Regions from separate parts of the Homo sapiens genome. Here region 1 is linked to region 2. The links come from fine-mapping of genetic effects on gene expression. A gene starts in region 2. The other region holds a variant in brackets. All regions are shown on one strand. Distances are between the middles of the regions. Region 1 overlaps FOXP1 (forkhead box P1). Region 2 holds the start of FOXP1 (forkhead box P1).

The links.
Region 1: its variant is fine-mapped to the expression of FOXP1 in whole blood (TOPMed, PIP above 0.99).

Annotation. Positions count from the first base shown.
Region 1 is chr3:70,973,222-70,986,758 of GRCh38, reverse strand. FOXP1 (forkhead box P1) reads left to right here. Exons shown (of 21, transcript NM_001349338.3): 15 at 8,730-8,931; 16 at 9,037-9,116; 17 at 9,717-9,818. Among named protein-coding and RNA genes, the nearest start is that of FOXP1-AS1, 310 kb to the left of the region's middle. RefSeq lists enhancers at 480-1,521, 9,514-10,713. The variant A/C (reference allele first, on the strand shown) is at 8,079.
Region 2 is chr3:71,575,833-71,592,803 of GRCh38, reverse strand. FOXP1 (forkhead box P1) reads left to right here and starts at 9,076. Exons shown (of 21, transcript NM_001349338.3): 1 at 9,076-9,233; 2 at 11,107-11,255. It overlaps FOXP1-DT (FOXP1 divergent transcript), which reads right to left and starts at 7,861. Exons shown (of 1, transcript NR_182289.1): 1 at 5,395-7,861. RefSeq lists an enhancer at 8,592-8,886 and a silencer at 8,964-9,203.

The sequences.
Region 1 (13,537 bases), 600 kb after region 2:
TATTATTTTACAGTAAATGGCTATAGGACTAGATGTGTAGGCTACCAAAAAGAAAGGAAAAAAAAGAACCAGGTCATTCACTGTTGTGGCATCAGTAGTCAGCTGTGCTATTTCTAGCAACCCCTCCTTCTAGAACCCAGCTAAGCAAAATGGTGAGCCTCTGAGACAACTTGGCTGAAGTCATCTCGAAGAAGCATAGCCAATTGCACAGGGCATTCACTGCCTTGGAACTTTTTGAAAGTCTTCAGATGGCTTTAGTGAAATGGTTTTCCCAGATTGAAGGGTTCAAATCTTTGCACCTAGCAGCAAGCGAGAGAATGAGATTATCTCTGTCTTCCTCCACGGATTAAAAACAGTGATAGGATAATGGTTGGACCCAGCACTGTAGGCCTGGATCTTGGGGCTTCTTGGGAAGAGGAAGGATACAATTAAAGATAAGGAACTACAAAACCCCGTAGGGCGCTTGGCGAGTGACCGGGCTGGGTGTTGGCAGAGAGCACCATGTGTGTAAGCCCCTGTGGGCCACAAAAGGACCATTGGGATTCTTCACGTGGACCAGTGTTAAGCAGCTGGTAAACAGGGAAAAGCATGGGGGGAAGTGAACAGGGATGGAAGGTTTGTCTTGATTAGTATTAAAAAAAAATGTTTTACTTTCTAGAAAATTGTAACTTTGAAGGGGACCTCCTACTAAATTTATTTTTAACTGCTCTATTGAAAATTCTCTACCACTAGTCAACATTATCTCTTAGTAGCTCAGCACAGTATTTCTTTATTAGAAGAAATCGGCACGAATATTTTTGACTGAAAAATTAATAGCTTTTGAATTCATACACAGCAGGTTTTCTTTTGCAAAGAAGTCCAATATCGCTGCACAGCACTTCTATAACCATTTATTTAGAGTCCAAGTCAAACCTTTGACAGCTAGAGCAGCGCTACAAGCCAATATAAAGAACTCCAAGATGTAAACCAACAATAGGCCGTCTGTGTGAGGTTTGCCATTGTCAAATACATAGATTGTTTGGATTAGTTTATGTAAATGTACTGTTGTATTACCCTTTGAAAAAAAAAAAGATCACATTTGTGTATGAAAAGTGGTTCCCTTCACAGGCAGCATTATAAATTCCTTATCCTTTAACTTACATGTAAGAAGTAAAAATTGGTGCCTGACAAGCAGATATTGTGTGACACTCTGTTGTCGGAGTGAACCTGCCTTCTTTTCATTTATTGGAAAATAGAAAATTTTATTAAAGATACCATCTTATAAATCAGGAATTATTAAAATATGTATAGGTGAGGCATTGGGAAATTAATTATAAAAGGTAGACGTGTAATGTTTTGCATAAATTTTCACTTCTTTGCCAAAAAGAAAAAAAAAAGGGCACACACATACAGCAAACCCTTGATGCTTTCAACTTTAAGGGCCCAGAGCTATCTGGTGACTGATTCTCATGTGCAAAATATTCCCTGCAGTCTGTAATTAATTTATTCCGCCCTAAATAATAGAATGCATGGCGTTTGTTTGAATGAGTATCCTTCTAGAATCTTTAATTTGAAACAGGCAGTCACCAGGATTCAAATCTAACCATAGATGGGGACTTTCATGTTACAACCTTGCCAGTAAGTTCATGAAGCTTTTTCTTTTTTCCATTTCTGTGTAGAAGAAACCTCGTGTTTATTTTAAAATTCTTAGTCACTAAGTGATAGAATGCTTTGCTGTAAATGTTGCTTTTCACTAAATGCCATTTGGGTGTTAAGTGTCATTTGCTGTATCCAATCATCCAACCAGTCCTCATTTCATTGCATCAAAGAAACTGCTAAAACGTTCTTAGATTGTTTTTACATCAGCTCATAGACGCATTTTCTGGATCTTATTGTGGGACTCATCAGATTTGGATAGTTAGAGGATACGCTCATCTCGGGAAGGTGCCCAAGTTTTTGGACATGGATCTGAGGAAGAAAGCTTATGGGTGAACTGGGGCAGGAGCTCACGGGCTTCCCATCCCTCAGACTCCTTCGACGGCCTTTCTTCCTGCTTGCTATCACATCTCTTTAAACCTAAGTAAAATCTTCCTTTCAGAACAAAACCAAAGACTCAAGGTGCAGGTTGGTTATGGAAAGGGAATTTCTGCATTTAAAATCAAACTATTCCATCAACAAATATTTCTTGAGCATGTGACATACGTGACAAGTAGTCAGTCACATGAGCAAGGCCCATCCCTGCCATGGAGGTGTTCAGAGTCTGGTAAAAGAAATAACAGATAAACTACATACATACTCACACAGTCTCACTTTCCGTGAATTGCACTACCTGTAAGTAGAACAGCTGACCCAGAATGGTAAAGTCAGGGGAGATTGCTGGGAGAAATGATGTCTAAGCTGAAACCTACAAGATGAGCAGGAAGAAATGGTAAGAGGTCAGCCTTGTGAACCTTTCCTTAGGTTAAGAGTGGGTGCCCAGATCGGTCCCTCTGATTGGTGAGTATCAGTGTAGAGGAAGAAAAGGAATAGCCAACATCAGTTAAGACAAGCTTTTCAAACTTTTAATTTTATAAAGACTGGACCCTGCGTGGACGTATGTAGTATGTGTAAGTTGACCAGAGCAGCCCTAAGCTCTAGCTCTCAGGTACATAGAGCCGAAAAGCAGTTCTTACATTTAGAATGGCCACATTTCTTGTTATTTTAAAAGATTCTATTCTTTTCTATGGAAAGAAAAGCAAAAACAAACAATAGTAAACTGCCCTAATGAAAATGATTGATATTCTTTTGTTCCAGACTCAGTAAACATTCTCAAAGTAAACACCCAAATGTCTTGCTTGGAGGTTAATTTCTCCGTGCTTACTCTGTGGAGAATTTGCCAAGATACTTCATTTGGGGGAGGGAGTGAAAAACTAAGAGGACAAAACAAAAACAAAAAGAAACATGTCTGTGATATGATGACTTTATTAAATTACTACGGATTTCTTAAAAAGACTTTTCACACTCTGTCATTATGTCAGGAAAACACTGTAAATCGTATTTTATAATACTGAGTACATGAGAAGAACGCTTTGCTTTAGGGTATTCCTGCACATCAGAGAACAACTTCTGCTCCTGGAGAAACCACATTCTTTTAGATTTGGTGGGCACGTAATTACAGTGTAGGTGGTATATTCTTCTTGACGAAAATCTTATAAAGCACTTACAGGAACTTGGATATTTGTAATGAAATATAGTATTAGATTTTCATTTTTATACATTTTCTTTTCCTCTAACCATAGCCATTAGGACTGTTTTGAAAGAGTTTTTAGCTCCTATAAAAACAAAGTGCCCCCCCGAAAAGAAAGGGTCTTTTAACTCTTCAAGGATCATTTGGGCTGCCTGGGTCCTTGCTTTAGAGTTGGAGAAATAATATTAAGCAGTCATAAAAAGGGATTCTTAGGCACAATACACAAAAGCTGTTTTATATACTGTTTTTCATTAAGTGCCCCACCCCCACCAACCTTTCAACTAGAATTTTTTTGTTTTTGCTTTTAGTATCCCTGCCAGTACCACCACCTTCTAAGTAAGTCATAACCTTCCACGAGTTCGCTTCTCTAAAACAGGGCCAGGCTGAGATGGTAAAGGAAAGGAAAGGAAAGGCTTGTAACAAAGGCTGCCACCCATTGTCCTGCCCTCCGCACGGCCTGGTAACGTCCCTCCAGCCTCAGAAAGGCCGTCTCTGAACTCAGTGATTCATGCCCAGAAATGACACTGCCATGCAGTTAAAGCAGGACTTGAGCTGGCTCAGGCCAGTAAAACAAGAGCAGAAAAACAAGTTCTGTGAGCCCGAAAGTCCCTACTACGCAGTTGTGTCCCTTGGTGTTTGGGTTTCAGGTTTGTCTTTTGTTCTCAGAATCTGTTTTCATGTGAGGCAAGAGCACAAACAAAAATAAAAATGAGTTCTTATGGGAATACTTACAAGTCTGTTTCTGTCAGGGGTTTACATCAGCAGTTTATTTTTTTAATGTGAGTGACTCATCATCTTTAAACAGGAGGGGAGATTACTGTTAAAAACTAAAGAAAGATTAATTAATTAAAAAAAAAAAGGGACTAAGCAGAATAGTGGGTAGCCAACCAAGTTTGAATAGTTTCGATGGCTAAAAGAAAAGCTGATGCCTGAGAGTACAAATAAATTTAAAAAATAAAACCCTACAGCAATTTTAAATGACATAAGAATTTAACTTTTGGCCAGAGTTTCAAAGAGATTATCTTTGCTGAAATCATCACATGATGGAAACTTGCCATGTAGAAAATATCAGAGTTACTGACTTTTCTAAACATAGCAACTTCTTTTAAATAGAAAAGGAACACAATAAGAAAAATAGGCTTTCCATCAGGAAAAGAAACCCTCCCAGTCCATTCCCTTCCTGCCCCATGCCCCAGAAAAAATTATCTTTTAAAACCTGAACTGCAATCAGAAACACAAAGCACATATGCTTTCATTTCTAATTGATGATTACATTAAGATTTAATAGTTTACAATTAAGATGAATATTTCAAGATTACAGCAAAAACACACACCATTCCCCATTTGCTCTTCTGTTCTAAGTCTGTAATTAATTTTTTTTGGGGGGGCACTCTTTTTTCAAAGAGGCCTTAATTAAGAGAGCAGGTTTGGTTTGAACACAGAGCCTGCTTTGAGTCTTTCTTCTCCATTCTTTCTCTCTCAACCTTCCCTTTCGAAGATGGTTTCTCCTCCAGACAAGCATGTGATCATCAAACAGAAGTTTAAAAGTTAAGAAACTTCTGTACCAGTTGACAAGGTTGACATTTCATTAACTTGTTGGTTCAGCCTTCAAATGATTTTGTGTGGCAAAGCACCCTGTGTTTGGAGTGTACAGCTTTTTCTTCTTCCTTCCCTCACGGGCTAGTCATGTTTAATTTGGAATCTGGGCTCCTTTGGCAAATTAGCAATTAGAACAATTTTGTGGGAATATGTATATGTGTCATTAGTTTTCCTGCAAATTAATAGCAAGGGCAGAGGTCAGGCAGAAATTTTCCACTTGACTGCAGCTCCTCTATTGAGACTTGGCACTTGGTTTTGGAATGGCCACAGCTGCTCTCAGCCACCCTCTTCCTCTAGGAACTGTCTTTTAATTAGTTTACCTCATAGCCATCATTACAAATATTACTGCCTCCCCTCCTCGAAATAAAATTACTGTTTCTACAAAATATTCCAGTGACATCTTGCACCACTGCACATTGATGGTGGGGTCAGTCGAATGCAGCATTTAATCATTAGATCACCTCCATCCGCGTCTCCTAATTAGAGTCCTTACAATACATTTTTATCTGGTAATTAGCTGAGATTGGCTGCTTCCTCTGTGGCTTATTAGAGACAGCCCAGCAGTGGGTGTGAATCACGGTGTCATTTGTCAAGCCTGGTAAGCCCCCTCTCTGCTCTCTTCTGGCTCAGTATTTATTCCCACTTGCTAATGTTCAAAAGCCTCCAGAAAATTCTACCTTCATCTCTTCCTTTGTGGATTGTGCTAACTTGGAGGGATTTTATTTTTCGCTGTTGCTTTTTTTTTTTTTTTTTTTTTTTTTTTGGTAGAAAGAGTCCTAGTGGTGCGATCTTGGTAATAGCTACAAGGCTCACATCCTTTCGGCATTTTGATGACATTTTACTGTGGGATTTGTCTATTCTTCGTAGCTGTGAACACCCAAAAAGATGGGCTTGCACTTGCTGAATGAGTTTTGATTTCTGACAATGAAACTGGAACTCAGTTAACTTGGTGATCTTCCTCCCAAAACTGAAAGGGAGCAGGCATGAAGGACATTTGTGTTTGTAATTTTCATTGCATCTTTCAGAAAGCCACAGTGTTTAGGGAAAAGTTCTTAAACTGAAAAGAGAAGCCGAGAAGTATAGTCAGTCCTCAGAACTGCTTTGTGGTTACTGTGTACCTTTGCCCTTTGACTGACGTATGTGTTTGATGGTAAGCGCTTCAAGGGCAGCAATTAGCTGTTTTCTTCCTGTTTTTGTCATTGTAGGAGTAACTGCCTTATATTTGCTCAGTTACACGTGTTGATTGTCATGCATAAGCAGGGATAAAATGCTCTGCACGGAATCTTTTCCAAAAATGAGCATACAGAAAAATGAAACTGGTTAGTGTTCATTTTTGCTATTAACTAGGCATAAGATGATTATACAAAGGATCTAGAATCATACAAGTGTGTGGTTTGACCTTGGGTCTGGGTTGGGAATATGGGCAAATTATTTAATCTCTCCAAGCCTCAGTTTGCTTATCTGTAAAGTATGAGTAATAACATCTCAGATATTAGTGGTGGTATGAGAATTGAAGGAGACCACACAGTGGCAGGTGGTTTTAAAACATGATTTTTACAAATGTTACCCATGACTTTCCAAAGCGCTCTGAGATTCTTAGGCTTAGCAGCGTCTGAATTATAAAAGCTGTATATTTATGAGCATTAGCCTTTCATGCACTAATTTCCTTGACCCTTTGCTTGGGCTGATGCTTATACATACTGTTCCTGGACTTGGTCAGTGATTAAGGCCCGAGGTGAAGAAGAGGTCAGCCCCAACTCTTCCCCCCTTGGCTTCTCAGCTCTGCCCCATCCTGCGGCTGCTACTCTGAACTGTTCACACTTAGTTTGCAAATGTGTGTCAGAAAGCCAGGTTTCCAACATTATAGAGAAAAACCCGCTCATGGCATCTGCTCAGCTTGCTGGGGCATTTGTAAGGGCAGTGCCATCTCCAGAGCTTGCTCTTCGCAGGCATTGTCTCTTGCTCACCGAGACAACATTCTACGCTGAAAATAAAAAGGAAAGCACAACTCAAAGCTCACAACATTCTGTTTCCAGCGCCATGTTTACATTTTTCCATTAGTATTTCTTCATGATATTTGATCTTTCTTTTCTTCAGGTTCATTGCTTTTTTATGAAACTCTCCTGAAACATATTAGAGAGGATTCTCAGGCCCCCCTCCCTTTTTTTTTTTTTTTAACTAGAGTGTGAGTAAAGGTCGAGTCTTCCCAACATATTGGAACTCTCTTTTAATAAGTTCTTTGATTATGATCTCAGAGGAATCTCATTTTTAATACCTTCCACAAATACTGCCTTGTACTTAAGACTGACTATAGCAATGGTGAATTAGACTTGGTGAAATAGACTTACTATGGTAAGTGATTTGAAATCTGGTTTGAGAAAATATTACCAAGTAAGCCTACTTTGCTGAAGTTTATTGGATTTTAGGGTGGGTCTGTGTATCTGAGACAGCACATAAACAGTAATACATACGCTGAAAACAACCAAATTCTTCAGCATTGCCAGACGTAAAATAATATTTCTGTTGCAACAAATTTTGGGGAAGGGTTATGCCTTTTAGTATTTGTAAGAACAGTACTTTAAGGTGAAGATAAGAAAGATAAATTGAAACAGTGCTCATTAATTTATTTTTTTCTTTTTTTTTTTTTTTTTTTTTTTTTTTTTTTTTTTTTTTTTGAGGTAGAGTCTCACTCTATCACCCAGGCTGGAATGCAGTGGTGATCTCAGCTCACTGCAACCTCTGCCTCCCAGACTCAAGCTATCTTCCCACCTCAGCCTCCTAGGTAGCTGGGACTACAGGCATGTGCCACCACACATGGCTAATTTGTGTGTGTGTGTATGTGTGTGCGTTAATGGAGACAGAGTTTCACCATGTTGTCCAGCCTGGTTTCAAACTCCTGGCCTCAAGAGATCCTCCCACCTCAGCCTCCCAAGGTGCTGGGATTACAGGTGTGAGCCACCATGCCCGGCCTATTTTATTCTCTTCTACTTCAAATAAGTAATATTCATTTCCTAACTTGAAGCAGATTATTTCCCATTTTATAGAACATTCAAAACTTGAAGGAAAAAAATCAAAAACCTCAGTTGCAGATCTCCCGTATTCTGTAAAAGAATGTCACAATAAAAAAAATTAACAGATCCCAAGCCTGTATTTGATAGATTTAATAAAGGTTATTCATAATGCTGTTAAGGATTATTTTCTGCCAACTGATTGATTGATTGATAGAAACAAATGACAGCTGGTGGGGTCAGGCCCATTGTGTTTAATATGAGTA[A/C]TAAATAGGCCACACATATTTGCAGGAGTTCTCGTCATCCACGAAGCTGCATGAGGGAGCTCAGTAGGCTCTTCCTGGGCTGTCTAGTATGGTAGCTACTAGCCACATGGGGCTCTTTCCATTTACATTTATTAAAGTTTAATTTTAATAAAAATCAAGTAAAAACAGCTCTTTGGTTGTGCTAGCATATTGCAGAAATTCTGCTGGACACTTCTTCAGATCTACACCAGCGTATCCCAACTGGTGTCACCTAAAATACTCAGCTTCACTGGTATTGCTAAGGACTTCTCTCCCTCTTTGAGGTTGACAAGGCCTGATGGGCGATCAAAGCCTATAGGTGAGACATCACAATGAAATAAATGTCTTGACTCAGGGTTTCTCACACTCCCTCAGGTAGGTAACCCCTTTTTGAGCCTGTAAACACCCATGTAGCAGCCTTTGGAAAAGAGACCGCTGCCAGAGATATCTTACACTGCATCCTAAGTGAATTCACGCAGGACTCACCGTGTGTTTCGGTTCATGGTAAACATACCATCTACATAGAGGAAGAAACGGTGCCCACGCATCCTCTGTGTTACTCCTGCTAGATGTGGTTCCTGGGTTGCTCTGGTTTTCTGAAGGTCTTCTAAGACGTTGTTTTTTTCCTTGCAGTTGAATCTGGTATCAAGTGTCACTCTCTCCAAGTCCGCATCGGAGGCTTCTCCACAGAGCTTACCTCATACTCCAACGACCCCAACCGCCCCCCTGACTCCCGTCACCCAAGGCCCCTCTGTCATCACAACCACCAGCATGCACACGGTGGGACCCATCCGCAGGCGGTACTCAGACAAATACAACGTGCCCATTTCGTCAGGTAGATACTCCACCTTTTGCCTCACGTAGAGTTGTAATCTGCAATTCTTGTAGACCAGCCCCTTTTGAAAAAGTGATAATTAATAGGACAATGATTCTTATTCAGCAGATATTGCGCAGAACCAAGAATTTTATAAGAACGCAGAAGTTAGACCACCATTTACATATGCATCTTTAATTAGGCAGGTAAGTAAATAACACAGTATATGAAATTCTGTCAGAAGGTATATGTGTACATGGATATATATTGATGAAGTAGATTTAAAAACCGTTTAGTATGCAAGCATGCTGAAACCTTTTCTATAAGGTTTTTTAAAACTGCAATATATAACATAATTGCTTTTGATTAAGTATTACAATACGATGTGATTATTAGGAAATTCATTTCACACAACAGTGAAAATGAGCCTGTTTAAAGATGGCAAGTCAATTATCACAAGCTACAGTAATCTCTGATCCCTAGAATTAATCTGAGCTCTAAATAATTACTGAGCTTTAATCAGCTAGTGAAATGTTTTGCATTTCTCTTTGATTCTGCTTTATGAATGACTAATAAATTAATATTTCTGTACGGAAACAGAAATAAAAACTCAAAACAATTAGATAATTCCATTTTGAATTTTGCTATTGAACTGTTAAATACAACCATTAATCTTAGATCATTTTGTAAAACCTTTCTCAGGATTTAGCTCTGAATCACAGTGATTTTATATTTTCGAGAAACTGTGGAATGACGACTCTGCTGATTTGGTCATAAATTATCTTCTGTTACATTCTGCTTCACAGGCCATTCTCGAATCTCCAGAAAAGCAGCTAACACTAAATGAGATCTATAACTGGTTCACACGAATGTTTGCTTACTTCCGACGCAACGCGGCCACGTGGAAGGTAAGCTTTCTCAGGCCTGTTTATTCTTGGATCTTGACGTTCATAGAACAGTTTGTTGTTGATAAAATGCAGTTGTGCTATAAGGAAGCTACATTTATATTGTTTTGATACTCTTAAAGTGTCCAATCTCTAGGTGTATTTGATTGGGAAAATAGTGCCATTGTGGTTGAAATGCTCTGATGGAAGACTCCCATTATACCAGCATCAGCAGTGTGGAGGGGCCAGCCAGTAAAGTGATCTCTCTCTGGTTGGAATATGTAGAGAAAAGGAGACAACACCGTCGCCCAGAAGTGGAGGTTGCCATATTACTTGCACAAACCTCATGCCGTTAGGTCTTCAGCCACAGCCGATATTTGCAGAGATGTATCTCCAGCGATCTATCTCCAGAGATGGAACCTGGAGAAATGACCAAACTTGACACAGCCTTCAATGGTTGGATAAATAGCTCATTAACCCAATTAGTAGAGAAAGCTGTGCAATCCAAGCACTAGCACTGTTTGTAGGAGTTATTAATGGAGAACACAATGTATTATTAAGGGGCAGGGGTTTTTGTTTTTCTTTTTTTGGTTTTAAGTCAAGAGATTGTCGGCCAGGCACAGTGGCTCATGCCTATAATCCCAGCACTTTGGGAGGCTAAGGCAAGAGGATCACTTGAGCTCAGGAGTTAGAGACCAGCCTGGGCAACGTAGCGAGACCCTGTCTCTACAAAAAAAATTCAATGAATTAGCCAGGCATGGTGGCATGCACCTGTGGTCAACAGCTACTCCAGAGGCAGAGGTGGGACGATTGCTTGAGGCAAGGAGGTTGAGGCTGCAGTGAGCCCTGTTCATGCCACTGCACTCCAGCCTGGGCAACAGAGCAAGACCCTGTCTCAAAAAAAAAAAAAAAAAAGGAGATTGTCCCTCATAGATATACTAAGGAAGAAAAGTAGATTTCGAACTTCATTATATTCATTATAATACTATTTGCTGTAAAAACAAGTCAAATTGCATAGCTCTTTATTGGATGCCCCCAGTAGTGCTTGGGGTCATATATGGCTTACCTCATTCCCAGGTCAGCAGCTGGCTCAAAGATTCCACTGGTATTTACTCCCTTATATTAGATTGATCCCTCACATATTTTTGGGCTTTCCCATTTTTGATTTCTTGGTGTCTAATATTCTTGCTTATAGAAGGGGACAGGTACACTCTGTCATTTGTATTTTTGCATTTTTTACTACCTGGAATTCTTGTAATCCCTGAAATCCAAAACATTTAGAGACATGTGATAACAAACATTTGAGGCTATTTTTACATGCCATTAATCTAAATATGATAAGGATGTGTTATAGGACACAAGGAAAACTTCCTTCGCCTGAAATAAATGCCTTCCTTGCTAATTCCTTAATTTTATACCGGAGAAAAACCAAAGCAAAAGACAGAAAAATACATTTCCTCTGTTAAGTTCCTGATAAATTAGCATTTTAAAAGAAAACGAATATAACCATAGAATTAATTCATCAACTTTACAGAGCTGTGAATATCCATTATGGCCCAAATTATCCTTTCATTTCCATTAAGACACATGGGCACTGAAGGGAACCTATGTTCAAAATCTTACCCTCTTTGCCTCAGCCTGCCTTGGAAGATAAAATATGAAAGGATCTTTAGCCATGAATGCTTTAAAAAATTTAGGAAGTCGAAGCATGAGGCAGACATTTTCTTCAGATTGCCTTTTATAAATAGAAATGATGAAATTTAAAAATAATTACCAGTTGTGAATATAATATTTAAGCTTAGATCTTCAGATTGCACTTTTTCGTTTTGCAAACTGCAGGAAAAAGTGTCATTAATATAAACAGCCTTAGATGAAATAGTGACTCATAAATACGTATAATTTTCTGTACGTGTCCTTGTTTGTACCATGATCTTAGACAAAAGATGAAATGCCCAGTTAAGGTTATGACTGAAAAGAGCTTACACATCTTTTTTTTGAAAACTCTTGACTTCTCGTCGCTTTCTGCTTAGATGTGCAGTTTTGGAAAACAGAACTGAAGTTTTGGCTTTGTGTCTTTACTCACATGGTTATATTGCTCAACCTGATCTACAGAAATTATTTTGTCAAAAGTAGCTTTAAGACCTTTCATTTCTGTACATTTTGATACTTATTTTAAAGCATCAAGCAGTGATTAGGATTAGGAGCAATGTTGACTTCTTTTCAAGTTATATCTCTTACATGTGTCATGCCCTGTCTGGATTTTTAAAGGAAATTGGCTCTGTCCGTTTATTTATACCACCTCAATTTTGTTCCAGTAAGTAACAGTAGACCTTCTATTGTATGCCTTTGGGCAATATATTTTTTTAAAATGCAGCCAAATGCAGTGGCTCCTGCCTGTGATCCCGGCACTTCAGGAGGCTGGAGGATCACTTGAGCCCAGGAGTTCAAGATCAGCCTGGGCAACATAGCAAGACCCCATCTCTACAAAAAATTTTTAAAATTAGCTGGGTGTGGTGACACATGTCTCTAGTCCCAACTACTCAGGAGGCTAAGGCAGGAGACTCGCTTGAGCCCAGGAATACAAGGCTTCAGTGAGCCATAATTGAACCACTGCACTGCAGTCAGGCAACAGAGCAAGACCTAGTTTCAAAAAAAGAAAAAAAAAAACTGCTTATTTAGACTAGACTGCAGTTTATATGCATAGAAAATTGTCCTATCAAGTGTATGACATGCCAAATGTTTTCGGTTTAGAGATTTTTATTTTTAAGCAAATCCTTCTTCCAACTTTTTTGAATCAGGAGTGTCCTTTCATAGTCACCTGGGTATCTTGAACCGACCTCAATTATGCTGACATTACTCAAAAACTTTTTGGGAATTTATCCTGTGAATTCTCCTTTCAAGCAATTCATCACACCATGCATTAAAAAACTTGTCTCATTATCTTCTAAATATTCCATATCAGAAAAGAAAAATCATTATGTAGCTTGAATCCTCACAGCCACCAATTGTGATTGTCCAAAAACTGAAGCACCTCTCAGAGTATCAAGATTCACCACCGTTAAGGATAATTCAGGAAGGAAATACTCCAGGTGGCAGAATGGGATGTGTTGGGGGGTGGGGGGGGGGGGGCGGTGTGCAAAACGCTTGTGCAATAGCAGTGTTGCTGGAATTGAGTGAGGACTTTACCCAGTGTGATGTATGTATCAACTTCTCAAGCCCCAATTGAGTCACCTACTATTGAGTCATCTACTTACTCTGAATAAGAAGAAAATTTTAAGTAAATGACCTGAATCTCTTTAGAATGTCTTCATGTCCAGCGTTGAGTCTGGATCCGTAAGTTTAACCAGGCGGGACTAAAGAAATGAAGCCTTGCTTGTTACTGTACCCAGTAAGGGTTGGGGATTCTTCTGAAACCCAAAGGAAAGATGAGATATTAAAAGCTCTTCACCCTTGAGTTGAGATCCTCCTTTTTGATAAATTATCGATGTTAAGGGTCTCAGCTTAGGAATGGCCAGAAAGGACTTTTAACCATAAGCAAGATATGTCTGCAGAAACCATCAACTGTAGGAATATAGTCATTTTGCCATTGAGAGTTCCACTCGTGTTCCTTTGGCATTTACTCAGTTAAAATACTTGCCGATAGTTAGGGCCAACTCTCATATTCTGGAAGGTGAGACATAACATGATAGCTACTGATCTCTTGACCGGGGCGGGGCGGGGCGGGGGCGGGGGGTCCGTTCACC
Region 2 (16,971 bases):
TCAGAGTAGGTGGCAATTGGAAATCTCCATAGAAGGATTCCAAACCTCAACATACAGCATAACAAACTATATGGTGAGCTTCTCAAAATGCCAACTTCCAGGCCCCTCACCAATGCTGATTTAGCAGGCTTGAAATGGGCTCCTGGATCCCAAGAAATTAATCAATTCTTTTTTTCTGGAGCCCTGATACTAATGACGCCCTCCATCCAGGTGATGCTGAGGCCTGTATCTGAGGGCCACACTGAAGAAGAAGGCCAGCCTAGCCCCTTCTGGGGAATTCACCTAATTGACTGGTTTTCTCAAAGAAAGGATACTGGTCACTATGGAAGGACAATGTTTAGGGTAACTTAGGGCTCCAAGACCCCTCACACAGGCCGAGCTAACTGTGCACTGCTGTCCTCAGACTCACCCAGATCAAGGGTTCCCAAACTTCACTGCACATTAGAATCACCTGGGAAGCTTTTAAAAGTCCTGATGCCCAGATCATACTCTGGGTCAATTAAATCACAGTGTCTGGGCCTGGGAGCCAACCTTTGTAAAGCCCTCCAGCTGATTCCAATGCGCAGCAGTTTGTGAACCAGTCCTGAGCATTGTAGATTCCATATCATTGCTGCTGCTGCACTTTCTCTTGCAGTGCTCTTTGGCTATCCTAGCCCCAAGTGCCAAAATCTTAGCTCTCCAGGAAGACCCAGCTGCAAATGACTCTTTGCTGTATTGTCTTGACATGCCCCCACTGCAATGTGGTTCCTTACTCCTCTGCTGCTTCCTCTAAGGTATTCATCTTATGACCTTCTTTGTATTTACTACGTATCTTCAGCCAGTTAGACTGCAAGTTCCTTGAAAGTATGGACTCTAATATATGTGGCTCCGGACTGATTTGAGCAGAAAGAGTATGCAAGGGTGGACACAAGAGAGATGAGGCAAAGACCAACTCAACTCTTTTCCTTGGCTTTCTTCAGGATAGATCAGAGGGAGGGTAATAATAATGGTTGCTAGAGGTCACCTATGCATGAATTTCTTGAGTAAAATATCCCAGTAAAATTTTTAGGTTTTTAAATTAAAGAAATTGTGTTTTATTTTTATTTTTAAGACAAGGTCTTGCTCTGTTACTCAGGCTGGAGAGCAGTAGTGCGATCATGGCTTACGGCAGCCTCGACCTCCCAGGCTCCAGCCATCCTTCTGCCTCAGCCTTCCCAGTAGCTGAGACTATAGGTGTGCACCACCACTCTCAGCCAATTTTTAATTTTTTGGTAGAAATGAGGTCTCACTATGTTGCTGGGGGTTGTCTCAAACTCCTGGGCTCAAGGGATCCTCCCACCTCAGCGTCCCCAAGTGCCGAGATAACAGGTGTGAACCACTGCACCCAGCCTTGAACTCACTCTTCTGGGGGAGAAATAAAGAATCTTTCTAAATAACAGCACCTTCTAAATAGTGATGTTTTGACCTTTTGGTATTGTGAAAATGTGTGTCTTTGCTGCCATGACTCAGAATGTAGGCCAGCCTTCCTCCCCAGGATGTTTAGGGGGCTTATGGGGACTTACTCATGCCTGGGAAGGAATTTAAGAGGAAGTCAGAGTACCCTCTAAGTTTCTTTTCATCTCTTCTGATTGTTTTCACCCTGCTCACTTGAGAAACAAATCCTGTTATCCTAAACTGACATGGGACTTAGTTTCTGCAAAGAGTGACAAATGTACAAATGCACAGTGGCCTTGACAGATGCTGCAGCTCTGTTTTGATTTGCCCATTTAGAATTTTAAAACTGAGAAAGACTTTGATTTCTTGCCTCCCTTGAAAACTCAAAAGCTCTTCCCGCCCTGTGCTTGCTTTCCTGGTAATAGCAAATAGCACCTGCCACTTTTAGCTGAGGCCTGTGTGCTCAAATTTGCTGTAGCCCCTATGCCTATGCCTCCTTACTTCCAAGATTTCAGTTGCCTGATTTGAGTTCTATAGGCTGTGGCAGCAGCAGCACCTGTTAAAAACTGTTAAAACGCAGATTGCTGAGCCCTACCCATCTTCCGGAAGGAAGAGGTGTCATTTGTTTATGTATGTAGATATATACACATATACATGTGGGTACATATATACATGTTAGTATGGATTCATATAGATTTCCTTCTGTGGATTATAATCCAGTACTATTGTTACTTCTTTTCTTGCTCAGGATGTCTCAACTTTGGGCATTTGGGAGCTCTCTGGGGTTGCCTCCTGTGGCCTTTCAGTAAGCCTCTACAGAGCTGCCCCCCGCCCCCCATTTTGTTTTGGGTTTTTACTCCATCACAAGATGCTCCGTGCTTATTTTGTATTTTCCCTACCCCAACCCTGGAATTAACTAGCTCCTCAAGGATCCCTGATTTATTGTATTGGAGAAAGGTATTTAGAAACCAAGATCTGGGTGCTAGGTGTGCTCATTGCTATTGGATCATCATTGCTTCTAGTCATTCTGAGTGGACAGAGCTAGGGAATATATGTGTGTATACTTATGTATACTAATTTACACATATGTACACATATAGATTTATGTCTATATCTATTTATCATGTGTATGGGTGTGTGTGTGTGTGTGTGTTTGTGTAAAACCTGACCCCATGAATACCTTCAACTCCAGTCCAAGGCCAAAGGAGTCATACTAGCTTTGGGAAAATCAGATTTTTAATCTTTGTATAGTTTTAAAATTTTACAAGTAGTTCAAGGACATCTTGGGGAAATAAGAAAGCTTCTTTTTATAGCTATTTTATAGCCATTACTTCAAAAAACTCAACAAATCCCAAGCTTATGGCTGAGATGTCTCATCAACATACCACCATGCTTAATATCCTTCAGTCCCTCCTGAAATCTTCCATAGTTTGGAACACACAGCCTTACTGTTCCCGAAGGTAGGTAGACCTGCCTCATTTCCCTTCTCATAAAACACAGTTTGTCTCCAGCTCTACTGAACAATGCCTATTGTAACGCTGAGCTGGCACTTGTGCATTCTAAATGTAGGCCAAGACACTTCGCGGAGATTACAATCAGAACTTTGCTTTACATGTGAAATCTTATTTTGAATGCAGGTACACAATTACTCACTCAGAGACTTAATTACACTGCCTTAGGATAGTATTAAAACAATGGTTTTAATTATTTTTTGGGGGGGTGTTACAAAAGTAACCTGCTGTCTTGTTAGGTGGGTGAGGGGCCTTTACTACAGTCTTTCTGAGAACTTCACAGATACAAATTAACCTTCAGCTGTGAGGTTTACCTGTGAGTCCTTCATGTTTATTCAGAAAGAAACCATACTTGGATGGGGTCCCTTACTCTCGTTATGCTTAATGTAAATCTAGTACTGCTTGATGAACTGTTTAGAGAACTGGAAAGATAATCCAGCCAGGATGGCTCATGGGCTGCTGGAGGTGTGGCCCCTCAGTGGTTTGGAAAACACTCTGGGTTTTAAACAGCAGCACCTATAATTATGGAGGCGTCATCCCTTCCATAAAAAAAGAAAACAAAACAAAGAAAGCAAAGCCCTTCTACTAACAAGGTGTAGTCATAGCATGTGTTCAGCCTTTTCAAAACCTGTCTGGCATTTGTTTCTGGCCTGGTGGAGAGTATCTTCCATCTTTCTCTGAGCTCTCATAAAACAATACAAAGGTAAACAATTGGAGGGCAATTAGCAGTCTCTTTGGGGTAACAGGAGAGAGAAGTCACCGGACTATTAATGTCAAAGGAATTAATTATGGTTTGCATAGGTGATTGAGTGACTTAACTTTGCAAATGGTTGAAAAATAAGGAACCAACAAAGTTTATAAAAGATGCCAGTTTGGAGAATCATGTATGGCAGACTTACAGGACTACCTGTGAAATAGTTTAAGGCTATCAAGATATTGAGATGCAGCCTGTTGTATAAGGGGCCACATGTACTATAGATCACCTTTGTCCAACTTGAATGTGTGTGAGACTTGGCTGGGTGATTTTTTTAAAATACAGATATTTGATTCACTAGGTCTGAGGTAGGGCCTGACATTCTGCATTTTTGACATAACCTGGAGGTGGTGCTCTGCAGGTCAGCACATCTCATTTTGCATAGTAAGGCTGTAGATTGTTCTAGTACCTGTAGCAGATGGGGTTGAGCCACCCATACTCCTTTTACATGTTTCCAAGGTACCAACGTTGCACTGGGAATGCTCAGGGCATTAGAACAGCTTTTTGGATTGATGATACTTGGCCAAATGCTTCACCGTACCTTGTAGTTTATGAGGATTACAGTCCACTGAGACCCATGTTCATACAGTACAGTCATGCACAACCTCTTTTCACAATCACCAATTTAGAAAAACATAAAAATATTTGCAGGCCATATTTATTTATGTTTATATAACTGCATACTTTAAAAAAAAGCAGCAAGTGCAGTCTTGGTAACTAAGGTCTCACTCTCCAGTTAGAAAAACAGAAAAAGCACTATTGTTTCTAGATTTAACTCTGAGCCTCTTAAGTTTTGTTGTGGGGGAAAACACTTTTTAAGCTAGGGTCATTCCCCGTTCCCTGACTAGCTTTTCCACCCACTCAAATTATCAAATGTGGTTTTGTCTCAGAGTGTGCCTGTTAATATTGTATACTTTAAAACAAGAGATCCCCTGCTGATTTCCGGTGTGGACATATAGGGACATGAGGACACAGAGGATGGGCTCCTCTTACCACTTACTGTGAAGCACATGATTTTCATTAGCCATTTTTATCTTCTTGGAAGGCAACTGAGTTTAAGCTTTCATTTAGAGAATGGTCTGCCCACGCTTACTAACCTCCCCTCTCTGAATCCACTTTTCTCTTCTCAACCCTCCCTTCTTTCTTTGCTGTGTTGACCCCCACCTGGATGTCTGTCACATCTATGGAGAGAGGGTGGAGAGAAAGGACGGTGAGCAGGGGGTTGAACTTGTTCTTGACCCTCTGTGGCCTCAGTTTCTCCCAGATCTGTAAAGGGGTCTGTAGGTTAGCTGTTTCTGAGAAGCTAGACAAACCACTTAAGTCTGAGGATTGGTCACTTTAGTGGAAAGAGTGAGATGGAAACCCACAAAGTCAGGACACCTGGATTCTAATCCTTGTCCAACCAGTAACCAAATTTATTTTGCCTTGGAGGGCAAATGAAATCCCTGGGCCTTAGATTCCTCATCTGTAATGCGATATTCTTAGTTATGCCCATGTTTTTTAAAGTGTAGGAACCTTGGCACTAGGATGGCATAACACTGAATCACACATTGAGAACTGTATTCCTTTCCGATCACTTTAAATCCTTCTGGTTGTTAAAAAAAAAAAAAAAAAAAAAACAGAAAAAAAGAGAGAGAAAAAACAAAAATTCAAAAATTTCCATTGATACTCTTGTCCTTAACCCTTCTCAACATTTGCCACTCTCCCTCCTTTTTTCAAAAATCATTTTTAATTTTTGTTTTGACCCTCAAAGAGAAATCAGTGACTTTGTTTTTACTGTGCTTGTTTTTAATTTATGGTGGGTGATACTGATTTCCCATTTAAGGCAGTAATAGAAAAAAATTAAAAGAAGGTTGATTTAAATGAAAATGTTTGCTACAATTACCATAATAAGTGGCCTCCAATGAGTATGGTATATTAATTATTCGGGAACTGTTATGTCATATAGATATGGCAAAAATCAGGACACCAGTAACTGTGGTTAAAGAAACACTAAATTAAGTGGTTTTAGTTTTTGTTCAACTCAAAACTTACAAGAGCATTCAGGTACGTCGTCAGGTGGTAAATGTCCACTCCAGTTTCTGTTCCCCAAATGTACATATATTTAGTGACATGGTATTTGGTGAATGAAGCTCATGTTTGGTGTATACAATCAACAGTAATGTGACAGGGGACTAACATATTCTGATACGTTTGGGAAAATTTTGGCTGCAGTTAACTATAATTTGCTAATTTTGCATTTACATTGGTTTTTTTTTTCTCCTGTTACTTAAAATATAACGAAATGGGGACAAGCACCTTTGCCTTGGTGTAATTAAAAATAAAATTATGTCAGGAACATCTGTTTTCAGAAGGGATTTCTATTTGTTTTATCACCAAAAGGTGGCGTCCTACCCCCATGCCCTTTATTTTAAAACCTTTCTTGCTTTAATTTAACAAAAAGAAACTTCCAGTTGATTACTGATAAAGAAATTAAAATCTGCCCCCCACGAATGTAACGTGACAGTGTTGAAAATGAACAATATGTTAAGCTGCAGTTAAGTTTCCCTCTAATGTAAACCAAATGGACATCGAGTTCTTTAATAAGGCAGCACAGCACATTAGACAGTATCATACAAAATTGAGTACAATATATCATGGGATTTACAACCAGGATTTCCTTTTGTCTGCAAAACTTGTTGCCAACCTGACTGTGGCCCCCACTTGCAAGTGAATGTAGAATTTAAGGCAGTTAAAATGCAGAATCAGATTAGCAGCAATCTAAAGATCTTTTTAGTATTGCGATGATAATAATTTTTAATAAACACACTGCTTAATCTGAAAAACAAGATCAGAGGATGAATTGTTCTTTACAGACTATGAATAGATCTGTTACATTTAAATAAGTCGTTATTCCCCTGAGTTATAATTCTACAGTCAGGCATATACCATAAACATGTTATATTTGGCATAAAGTACTTTAGAAATTAAAAACCATTTTTAATAGGTTGACCACTACAGAACCAGTAGACTGGCTACTTTGTAGATTTCCACTTAATTCCGTGTGAATTCAGCATATGGAATTTCCAGTGATGTCAAAGAGTTGTTGGCAGTATTAACTGAGTTGACATAAAGCTTTTAGTTCAGTGCCTAGATCATAGTATTTAATAAATGTTAGATGTTATTATTGACAGCTTAGACTGTGAGCTCCTCAAGGGCAGGAATTTTTATTTTTTCATCCCTCTGTGCCCACTCTGTGGTCTAGCACACAGTGGGTATGTCATTAATCCCTTTATGTCTTGACAAACAAGACGTCGAACCCTAGCCTCTAGGAAGCTAGGACATTCCATACAAACTAAAATGCATTTTATTGGTCTAGATTCTAGTCTAAAAGATTCAGTGAATAGTCTTATCTGGATAGCATGGAACTTTATGCAGCATGCATGCAATGTGAATTCTACCAGGCTGAAATTACCTTAGCAGCCTCCCTTTCTTTTATTCTGTAGCATCAGCGAATGGCTTTGTTATTTTTTTTTTTTAACTTGCGAAAGATACAATTTCAAAGCGATAGTCTTATGCCACCCTTGAAATTAAGATTTAAGTTCTTCTGTAAATTAATGTTTAACAATATTTGTAAAGGGGCATTACGCGAAAGAATTTAATAATAACCTTTTCAGGATATTATCTACAACTGTGCTGGTCTCAAGACCAAAGGGACAGTAAGCCTCTCCCCTCCCCGCAAGGGGAAGTACTTTGTAGGAATCCACAGGGGTGACTTTTAATATATTCTCATAAAGAATTGGCCTGGTGTACACCAGCCAGCCAGTAGCTGGAAATGCTGGTTTGGGAGTCTGGCCACTTCTGTGGTGGTGGGTCTGAAAAAATTTACTTCTGTTAACAACAACAACAACAACAACAACAAGACATAGAGGTCTTACAGCTTTCCAAGTCACGTTTTGGAAACACATACTCTGCTTCCTTCTCTATGCGTATTGATAAAAGTGAAAGAAATACTAGTGTCTTTTGTTTTATGTATGTATATTTCAAAACATTTAATTCAGGCTCTTAGTTTATTCCTTCGAATTTCTAAATTCAACCAAACTTCAAAAACCGCAAAAAGAAAAAAAAAAATCTCACCTTTTCAAAGAATTGGACAAAGCTTTTTGCACGTGACTGATCACTGGGAGAGCAGGTAATTTGTGTTAAACAACGGACTGACATGCTAGCCCCCAGGCGTTTTCCTAAGAGGAGTCGTGGCAAGAACACAGTTCCTGATGCAGCCACCTTCCCCCAAAGTGGACTCGATTGCACATTCCTGCAGTGGCTCTGACAAGGGGGCAGAAGCTCGTCCCACATTCACACTCTCCTGATTCCGAGAAACAGGGGAGAAAACCCCTCGCTGGCTGGCGGGGTTTCTGTTTCCTTGCAAACAGGGGTTTGTCCTTCTGCTGAACTTTCACCTCCCGAACTCGCCTTCTTTCATTGGACAAAGTGCAGAAAGAAAGAGGAGAGACCGAGGGAGGACGGGAGAGAGGGAGAAAGGGGGTTGAAAACACCACCTCCCACCCCGCTCTCCTTCAACTGTCACTGATGGCAAAACACTTTCACTTTTAACTGGAGGAAACTCACATTCTAGCCTGTCCTCTCCCCTCCCTTTCATATTTTTAGCTCAGAATCCAAGCAAATAGCCATCGCATTCCCATCTTCGTCCCTAGTTAACACTCTCCCTTCTCGTTTTTTCCGCTGTCTGAATGGGCCCCCCATTTCCCATCTCCTGAGGAATCTCCCCCTCCGCCCCCCTGCCCCTTATTTTCCAGGTCTTTCCTGCCAGATCCCTCTGTTGCCAGGGACTGCTCTGGCGTTCCCTTCCTCTCTCTGGTCCGCGGGGCTCTGCCTCCCTCTCCTCTTTCCAATCCTGCCTGGACGCCCCTCACTTCCCCCTCCCTGGATCCCTCCCCCCAACCCCCCCCCCCATTCTTTGGCAATTGCGATTTTTTTTTTCTGGGAGCCCGGTTGTTTACCCAGCAGGTGGATGTGACGTCAGGGACGCACAACAGCAAAAAATAACAACATCTCCCTCCGCGACGTGTTGGCCTCTCTCGCGCGCCTTATTTATTTATTTGTTCCGGGATGTCGGGGGGGAGGGGGGAGGGAGGAGGGGGGTGGGCGCCAGCGCCCCGGCGAACGGCAAAGAGGGAGCCGCTCCCGCTCGGGGGGCCGCTGGAGTGCCCAGCGGGGTGCGTGAAGCGGAGAGGGGACCCCTGCGGGAGGTAGAGGGTCGGGCCGGGGTGCGCCCCCGGGCCGGTGCTGCCCGCGCCTCTGCCGCCGCCGCCGCCGCCACCGGCGCTGGCTGGGCTCCGGGAAGCTAGTCCGGAGCGGAGGAATCTATTGTTATTTATTGTGTGGCGGTTGCACGCTGTACTCGCGGCGGCCCGGCCCTCGCCCGGGAGTGCGTGTGTGCGCGCGTGTGTGCGCGAGTGAGTGTGTGCGCGGGGTGCGCGCGCGGGCGGGAGTGGGCGCGCGCGGGGAAAGGCCCGAAAACACCTTAGTTTGCACCGAGAGACCATTTGCAGCGGGTGAGTTTGTATTTTTCCATTTCTGCTCCACTTTTTCCCAAGCCGCCTCCTGTCTTGTTTCCGCCACTTTAAACAACAACAACAACCAGCACAAAAAAAAAAAAAGAAAGAAAGAAAAAGAGAAAAAAAATGGAAAAAAAAAAACAACTACTTTCCACCTCCAGGCTCCACGTGCATCTCCCCCAGCCCTCCCCTCTCTTCCTCTCCCCCCCGGGTCGAGGCCCAGCTCTGGGATGGGTGGGGGCTGCGGGCCGGCGCGCGGGTGGAGGGAGCTCCGGCGGCGCCCGCACCCTTTGGGTTTATTTGCATAAGTCAAATGGGGGCGGGGGCGGTGGCGACTGTGAGGAGGCGAGATCGCCTGCCCGTAGGCCCCTTCACGCCTCTCTCTGCGCTCTCCACGATCGCCTAGGGGAGAGAAATCAATAAGCCCAGGCCGCCTGGCGCAACTTTCGATGTCCGGCGTTGGCGTCCGGTGGCCGCCCGGGCGCGGGGCCGGTGCGGGGTCCCGGGTCCTGGCCGCGGCGGGAGGGGGCGCGCGCCGGGCGCCTCCTAGGCCCAAAGTTTAGACTTGGAGCAAACTTTTCCCCTTCTTTCCCCGCGGGTGTGTGCCCCCTCGGTGCCCTTGAGCTGCCCCGCGGGCCCCAGCAAACTGACTGTGGTGCCTGGCCCTGGGCCCCGCACTGGGGAACTTCCCCGCTGCCACGCGCGCGTTACCCCGAGAGTCAGCGGCGAGGAAGCTCTCCCGCCACCCCCTCGGAGCCCGGAAAATTCAAACACGCACCTGCGCACCCCCAGCCAGACACGCACCCCTACGCGCGCTCGGCCTCCGCTTTCCCGAGACGAGTCCGCAACAGCCGTGGCCAGATCCACGGGTGGGTGCGGGAGCCGGATGCGCTGCGAGGAGTCGCCGCGCCCGGATCTCTCTCCCACCATCACACACATTTTCTGATTTTACCCCCCTCTGAAGCTTGGGGGACGGGGAGATTTCCCAAGCTCCGATTTGTCCTGCGTCGCGCGCGTGTCGCCTCGTCCCTCCGGCCCTGTCCTGGCGGCCGATGGCTCTCCGTCCCTCGCTTGCGCGCAGCCTTCCTCCCGAGCTCCCTGCGCTCTATTCCTGTCCCGCCGAGACGACTCCCTGGAGCCAGCGAGCCGAGGCGGCGTGCGCTTCGAGTGGGGACCACGGCGGTGGCGGCGGCGCCGGGAGCCGAGGAGTTTGCCAGTTGCCGCGGGGTCGCGGTCATTTGCTGCCTCCGCCTTCCCTCGCCCCCGCCTCCCGCCTCCCTCCTTTTCAGACAACGTCGCGCTCGGAAACTTAGATTCCTTCTTCTTTTTGGCCCTCGACGAGCCCCCCTCCCCACCTGTTGTGAGCTCCGCCTTGGTCCCGGGAGACTGGCAGTGACACACACGGGCTCTGGGGAGCTCCGCTCCCGGAAACAAAGTCGCATGCCCCCCTCCCATGTGTTTGCTTCGAAATCGCTGCCTGCAGCCCCCCATTCCCGCGCAGCTCCCGCCCCCTGTGAGAATAAGGACTAAATAAACAGTTGTAACTCCAAACCTTGCGCCCGTGATCGTATCCCCATCCCACCCCCTTCTCCCTATTCCTCCCCCCTCCTTTTTGTTGTTGCAACTTTGTGAGATCCTGGGGAAGGTGCTGAGACTTTGGCTCGGGCCGATTTCCCGGTCTCTGGATCCTTGCAGGGATTCCCTGAGCCGCATCCTCTCTTCCCTCCACGCGCACTCGCGGGTCCTCGGAGCCCGCTGCCCTCTCTGTCCTGGCCCCTCGGCCTACTCACCCGTCCCGTCCCCTTCAGTTCCCCCCAGCCTGCACGGGGAAGACTTGCTGAGGGTCGCCCCGGTTTCTTGTCGACTGCAGAACCCGAAAGTTTGTAAGAGGAAGAGAGCGCGCGGCGAGCGAGCGAGCGGGCCGGGGGCAGCGGCAGCGGCGCCGGGGACCATGGTGCTGCCGGCGCCTCCTCCGCGGGCGTGAAGGCGGCGCTCCTACTCCCTCCCCGGACTCCGCGGGTAAGTCGAGGCGGCCGCGGGCGCGGGGTCCAGGGACACCGGAGAGCCCCAGGCGGCACTAGGGGTTCTCCGTCCCCAAAGAGCCAGCCGGGGTGGCGCGAGCCTAGCGATAAGGCACCGGGAGCGAGGAATGTGCCCATCCTCAGGCCGGTAGGTGCTTCGAAATACTGGACTTCCTCCCCTCCACCCTTTTCCCCTCTTTCTTTCCTAAATCTGAAAATCTGGAGATCAAAGTTTAGCGTGGAGTGTAAAGTGCTCCGATAAAATATGGTGACATCCTCGCCCCCCTTCTCACCCCACTCCCCTCTTATAACTATTAATTATTTCCAAGTCATTGTATCCAAATACCCTTGCTGGGCTGATTACAAAGTGTATTGATTTAGTCTGGGCTCATCCTATGCTTTCGTCTTAATTCATTTTCTTTTTGCTCTACCAGAAGACCCAAAATGAAACTTATTTCTTCCTCTTCCCTACCTCCCCACCCCACAAGCCCTCATCTGTGAGGCTTGGGCAGAATAATGAAATTAATATAAACATTTCATTTGGTTGCATTTGACCTTATGCAGTCCACTTCTGAGGGGCTGGAATTGCGCTCATGTCTGCTCACAGGTATTTTCCAAGTTAGCATTTTCTTTTTTGTCACTGCTCTTTAAACAGGAATGCCGGAGGAGCATTCTGGATTCCCTTTGAAAGGCATCTGTACATTCAAACCGTCTACACTTCACCATTGGTTGTACGTAGACTTAAGGGTTTAGGGCTTGGACAATAGCTGAGTTGAGAAGACCTCAAGGATATTTAAAGGAATTTTTCTGCTACTGAAAATATATTGAAGAATCGCTGCAAAATTTTTCCATTCCATCCCCTTTCCCCCACCCCCGTTTTCCACAGCAAGAATCAATTTGGAGGGAGATGTGTAAACTAGAATTTTTAAAGAAATAGTAAGACTTCAGGTGTTTTCTACCCAGGGATAGCCTACATAATTGAGAAAGAGGAGTTCCTGCTATTTTTCTGTTCCAGAGAGAAATGTATCAAATCTTTTTTAGAATTCCACTGGAGTTTTGATTCTCAAAGTGGAAATACCCATCCCTTTGGGTCCAGGAAAAGAAAACTCAGCTCACAGTTTCAGAAATTTGGACTGTTTTTTTCCCCCCTCTGTCTTTCTATTTGAAACGTCTCACAATTAAAGAGCAAGAAAAATATAAAAAAGGAACTCAACTAGTTACCATTCAAAAGGTGTCAGCTAAAATCTCACTGCAAAGGGAAAAAAAAAGGTTTAACATCTTGCCACTGGCTGCATCCCCCACCCCCCTTAGACTTTGGATTAGTCATTGTATGAGAGAGAGGGAGAAAAAAAAAATCACTTTTTTTTTTTTTTTGGAAAAGTAAAGTAAACAGCCTCCAACTGCTGAACCTTGACAACCCAAATTAAGGAAGCAGGAGAGATCAAACAGAACTGCTGCTGGGTGGTTGTCAGGAGCTGCTACACGGAGAACCCTGGACTATTCGATCAAGCAGCAAGGCTATATGTTCACTTATGCAGAAATGGACCATTGCAGATGCTAATCTTTGTTGTGCAAGCGAAGGCTCACTTGGAAGGAAATACTCAGCCCCTCTCTGGGCAGCATTTGAGTTCCTTATGGATGCCGAGTCGCGAAACAAGTTATTTTTTTTAATGTATCCTTCTTTATGAGGAGAATGCTACCCAAAAATGTATTAAAGGAATATTAAGTCGTCCAGAGACTGTCTTGCTACCAAGAACTGTGCAATGGAATTCTTTTTACCAACATTAGACTCCTACACTAGAGTTAGATAACGTTTTCTCACATTGAGTTTAGAAGATCTGCCTTGTCAGGGAAGCCAAGGTTTTGTATGTGAGAGTTTAAATCTGATGTGAAGCTCAAAAAAAAAAAAAAAAAGAAAAAAGAAAAAAAAGAAAAAAAAAATCTCTGGTGATGAAGTTTTGTGTCAGCCCACTCTTGGAATTTAAAAAGGCGAGAGAGAGCAGTCTCCAGATTAGACAACCTCTTTTTTTAGATTGACATTCAACATGACCACGTTGCTACTTTTATTCAAGTTCTCTGTAACTTGTCCTTGCTTGTTGTCTAGGAAAATTTAACTACTTTACATTTTTAAAGGGAGTAGTAACAGTAATTACTGTAGCATTTTGTTTTCACAGGTTTATCAAAGTATAATGAAAGAAACATCAACTATTCAAATTAACTGTCTCAGATAAGGGGTTTATATTGCTGGAGATGTCTAAGATTTTGTGTTTATATTTAAATCGTGGAGTATAAACTGTGTAACACTTTTTTTTTTCTGGGATAAACTATCCCCAAATTAAATGTTATTTTAAATTAAGTAGAACAAAGTAGGAAACAGGATAAGTAAACACATACAGAAGAATAAAAATAATTGTCATTTAAGGATTATATTTTTAATTAACAAGTGTCGGTCACATAGTAAGCAGTTTATATATTTTTTGTAAGCCAGAGTTTCATAACCATGGTGCACAACATGTTTCAAAGTCTGTAGTTTTTACTAGATATACCTTTATTGTATAATTAAGCAATGTGGGTTAAACATACACATGGATGCTATTAGGCAATTTTCTGCAATATGTAATGTTTTGAAAACGCTATAAATATTTTCTAGTTAAACCATTTATACTTATAATAGCAAAAGTTAACTGAGTTAATATTGAGCCTAGGCATGGTTTTCTGTTACTGAGTTTTTCTTTGCCTTTTTAAAGACTATACCCCTGGCCTTGTAAATTTGCATCTTAGGCTCTGTTGAAGGGTATGTCTGTTTTCAGCAGTTGTTTAAATTAACAGAAGAATTGTGATATTTTTCAAATATATTTATATTGCAGGGGGTCCAGTGCCAAAATTAAGAAAGAGAAGGAATATAGCAGATGTGACAACTTCTTTTGAACCCAGCTTCCTCTTTGCAGCCAATCTTATTGTGCATATTTATTTGATTTTCATGTTTTACTTATGACTCAAACTCAGTTTTGAAACACTATCTTGTAAGATTCCACATCTCAAAAAGTATGTATATTTAGACAAGGTTAGGTGTTACAGTACCTATCACATTTCAGTGGGAATGCCAAGAATATTTACAGGGTATAGCAAGAATTTTGTCCTTTAAAAATAATTTTAGGTATACGTTAATAAAACCGAAGTAGATTGCAGGCTGTCAGAACATAGTATAAATTTTGTTTATGATTCTGTTACTTTAAGGTACTTACATTAAAGAAACTCATTTAACCCGTGACTGAAGAGCATTAAGTGGGGAGGGAAACCCTCTGAAGAGCTCCTACTGCCCTTTGCTCTCCCGATAATCTTAAATTACTACAATTTAATTGCAACTTCAAGGCATTCAGCATGAGCTGTTTCTTCTCCACGACCGAGAAAGGGTTTCCAGAGCATGGCTAGATTTACACAGGTGGTATTTTTGTTTTTAATTTTTTTTTTCTTTTTGCTAAGGGCTTTTCCTTTCTTCCTTATCCTGTCAGATGTCACACTTCTTTTATAGATTTCAGTCATAGTAAATGCCATTTTTGCTATACCAGCAATATTGGCCTTCTTTTTTTCTTTTTAAATGTGTTTTTTTGAATCTAGAGTATATAAACCTCTCAAGCAGGTAGGGGTTTGTTTTCTAAAGAAAATAACCTCAAGAAAGGCATCTGCTGAATAGACAGGTGAACTTTATACCTGAGCCAATGTATACTTTTACTATTTGCAGGGGATTTTTTTTTTTTAAGTTGATGGTAGTTAGTCCCACCAGGTGATCAAACATTGAGTTTGTGAGACAAGCCAGCAAGCCAAGTAGGTTTGCACTTGGGCCCATGCATTTTTTTAATGATCTTTCTTGTCATTTGTTACTCTACTCTGCAGGCCACTTTGCTATACATATGCTATCCAAGGAACCATCTTAAACTGATTTTTCAACATATTTCTCTTCTCCGGTACTTGGATGAATTAAGGATAAAGGCTCCAAAAGCTGGAATGCCAGCAGGCCTTGAGATGAGGCAAGTTCCTGAAACGGGCAAACCTGGCGAAATTTGGGGTATCTTCTGCATGATAGTTTTTTTCCTTTTTTTTTTTTCCTGGGACGTTTGTAGTTTATTTCAATGAGCATGTGACCATGTGCTTAATGGAAATTAAGCAGATTTGGCTTGTGTCGCTAACCTAAAAATAAATGTTGTAAGGAATATTTGATTTCTAGAAGTGTTTTGGTTTTGCATCCCATAGATAATGTTCTTACAGTTAGGGCTACGAGGCTGGTATTCTGCAAAGAGGAAGTACAATGGGGGAAAGTGCATGGCAGTCAGGAAAGACAATTAGACAGTGTTCTTTGTTTCTTTAATAAATTATTCTTATTAATTACAGTCAGTTTGTGCTAAGGCATTTTTCAATCCTTGTTTAGAAGTCAGCTGCCATTCACAAGAAGGTTGTGCCAGAAGCTGTGTTCTTCGCACGCACTGTTGTTTTACCCAGTCGTGAAATCTATTGACCAGATTGGCTTGTGGATGTCTCTGCAAGGCTTGTTTTTCTTTTTGCAATGCCCTGATGCCAGTCTTTAATACATGCCCTGCCTTGTACACAACAGGTGTTTGTTCGGTAGTTATTTTATGGGACTTAGAGTGAGAAAAAAATGTTTCCTATCTAGCCAGCCGCTGTGAGAACGAGTGCCTGAAAGGGAGAACCTACCTAGTACCTGAACAGGTGTAAATGGGTGTTTCCTCATGACCCTCCCCAAGCTGTTTTATTTCAAAAGGAGGGGAGGGGGGCTCAGTTTAGTGCCATGAAATTTACAATTCAGTTGTAATAATTTAAGGTTATTGGTAGAGTGCAAAGGGCAGTGGGAGCTTTCTAGTGGTTTGGCCTTGATGCTTAAAGCTGCTCAGTTGTAGGGTTAAATTAGTTCCTTCAGTCTGAGTACTTAAAGTAACTAAATCGTAAACAAAATTTATATTCGATTCTGACAACTAATAATCTATTTAAATTATATTAAAGTATCTGGGCAAAAATTTAATTAAAGACAGAAGTACTGTCAAGCCCTGTAAATATCTTGACAGGTCTACTCAAATGGAACTGATATCACGAAATATTTACATATGTCTGCTGTGTTCGGGAACATCTCAGCAGTGCCTGTGCAAAGCTAATTGCACTTTCCTTCCAAATTGTATTTTTAATAAAATAGTTTTTTTTTTAAAAAGGAATATGAATACATACACAGTTGTGTTCCAGTGTTCTGTTTACTATTTACTTCTCTATACTCAGAATCATGTTGTGATGAGTGTATTTCCTCAAACTGCTGCTAATTCAGATAAATAGCTGAAATGGGATCATTGAATAGAAAGCCCATGTCATTCTGTTTGATTTCAACAGTTTGAAGATATCAGAGGCTAGCATGTTATAGGACAATTTACTGAGGGAAAAATGGATCTGAATGTGGGATTATTGGGCCTTGTTTATGTTCAATAGAATAGATTTGCTTAGGACAAACATTTTCTCTGAGTTTTATGTTTGGACATATATTTATTTATTACTTGTAAGTCAGGTGGACATCCACATTTTACCAGATGCTCTGATTTTAGCTAATTTTGTGATTCACTTTGTTTACTAGGACACTGAAGAATATTTCTAGCATCAAACTGAATTTCCGAGGTGTCCTTTCTCCCTCCCAGCTGTGCAATTGAGTCATAATGTGA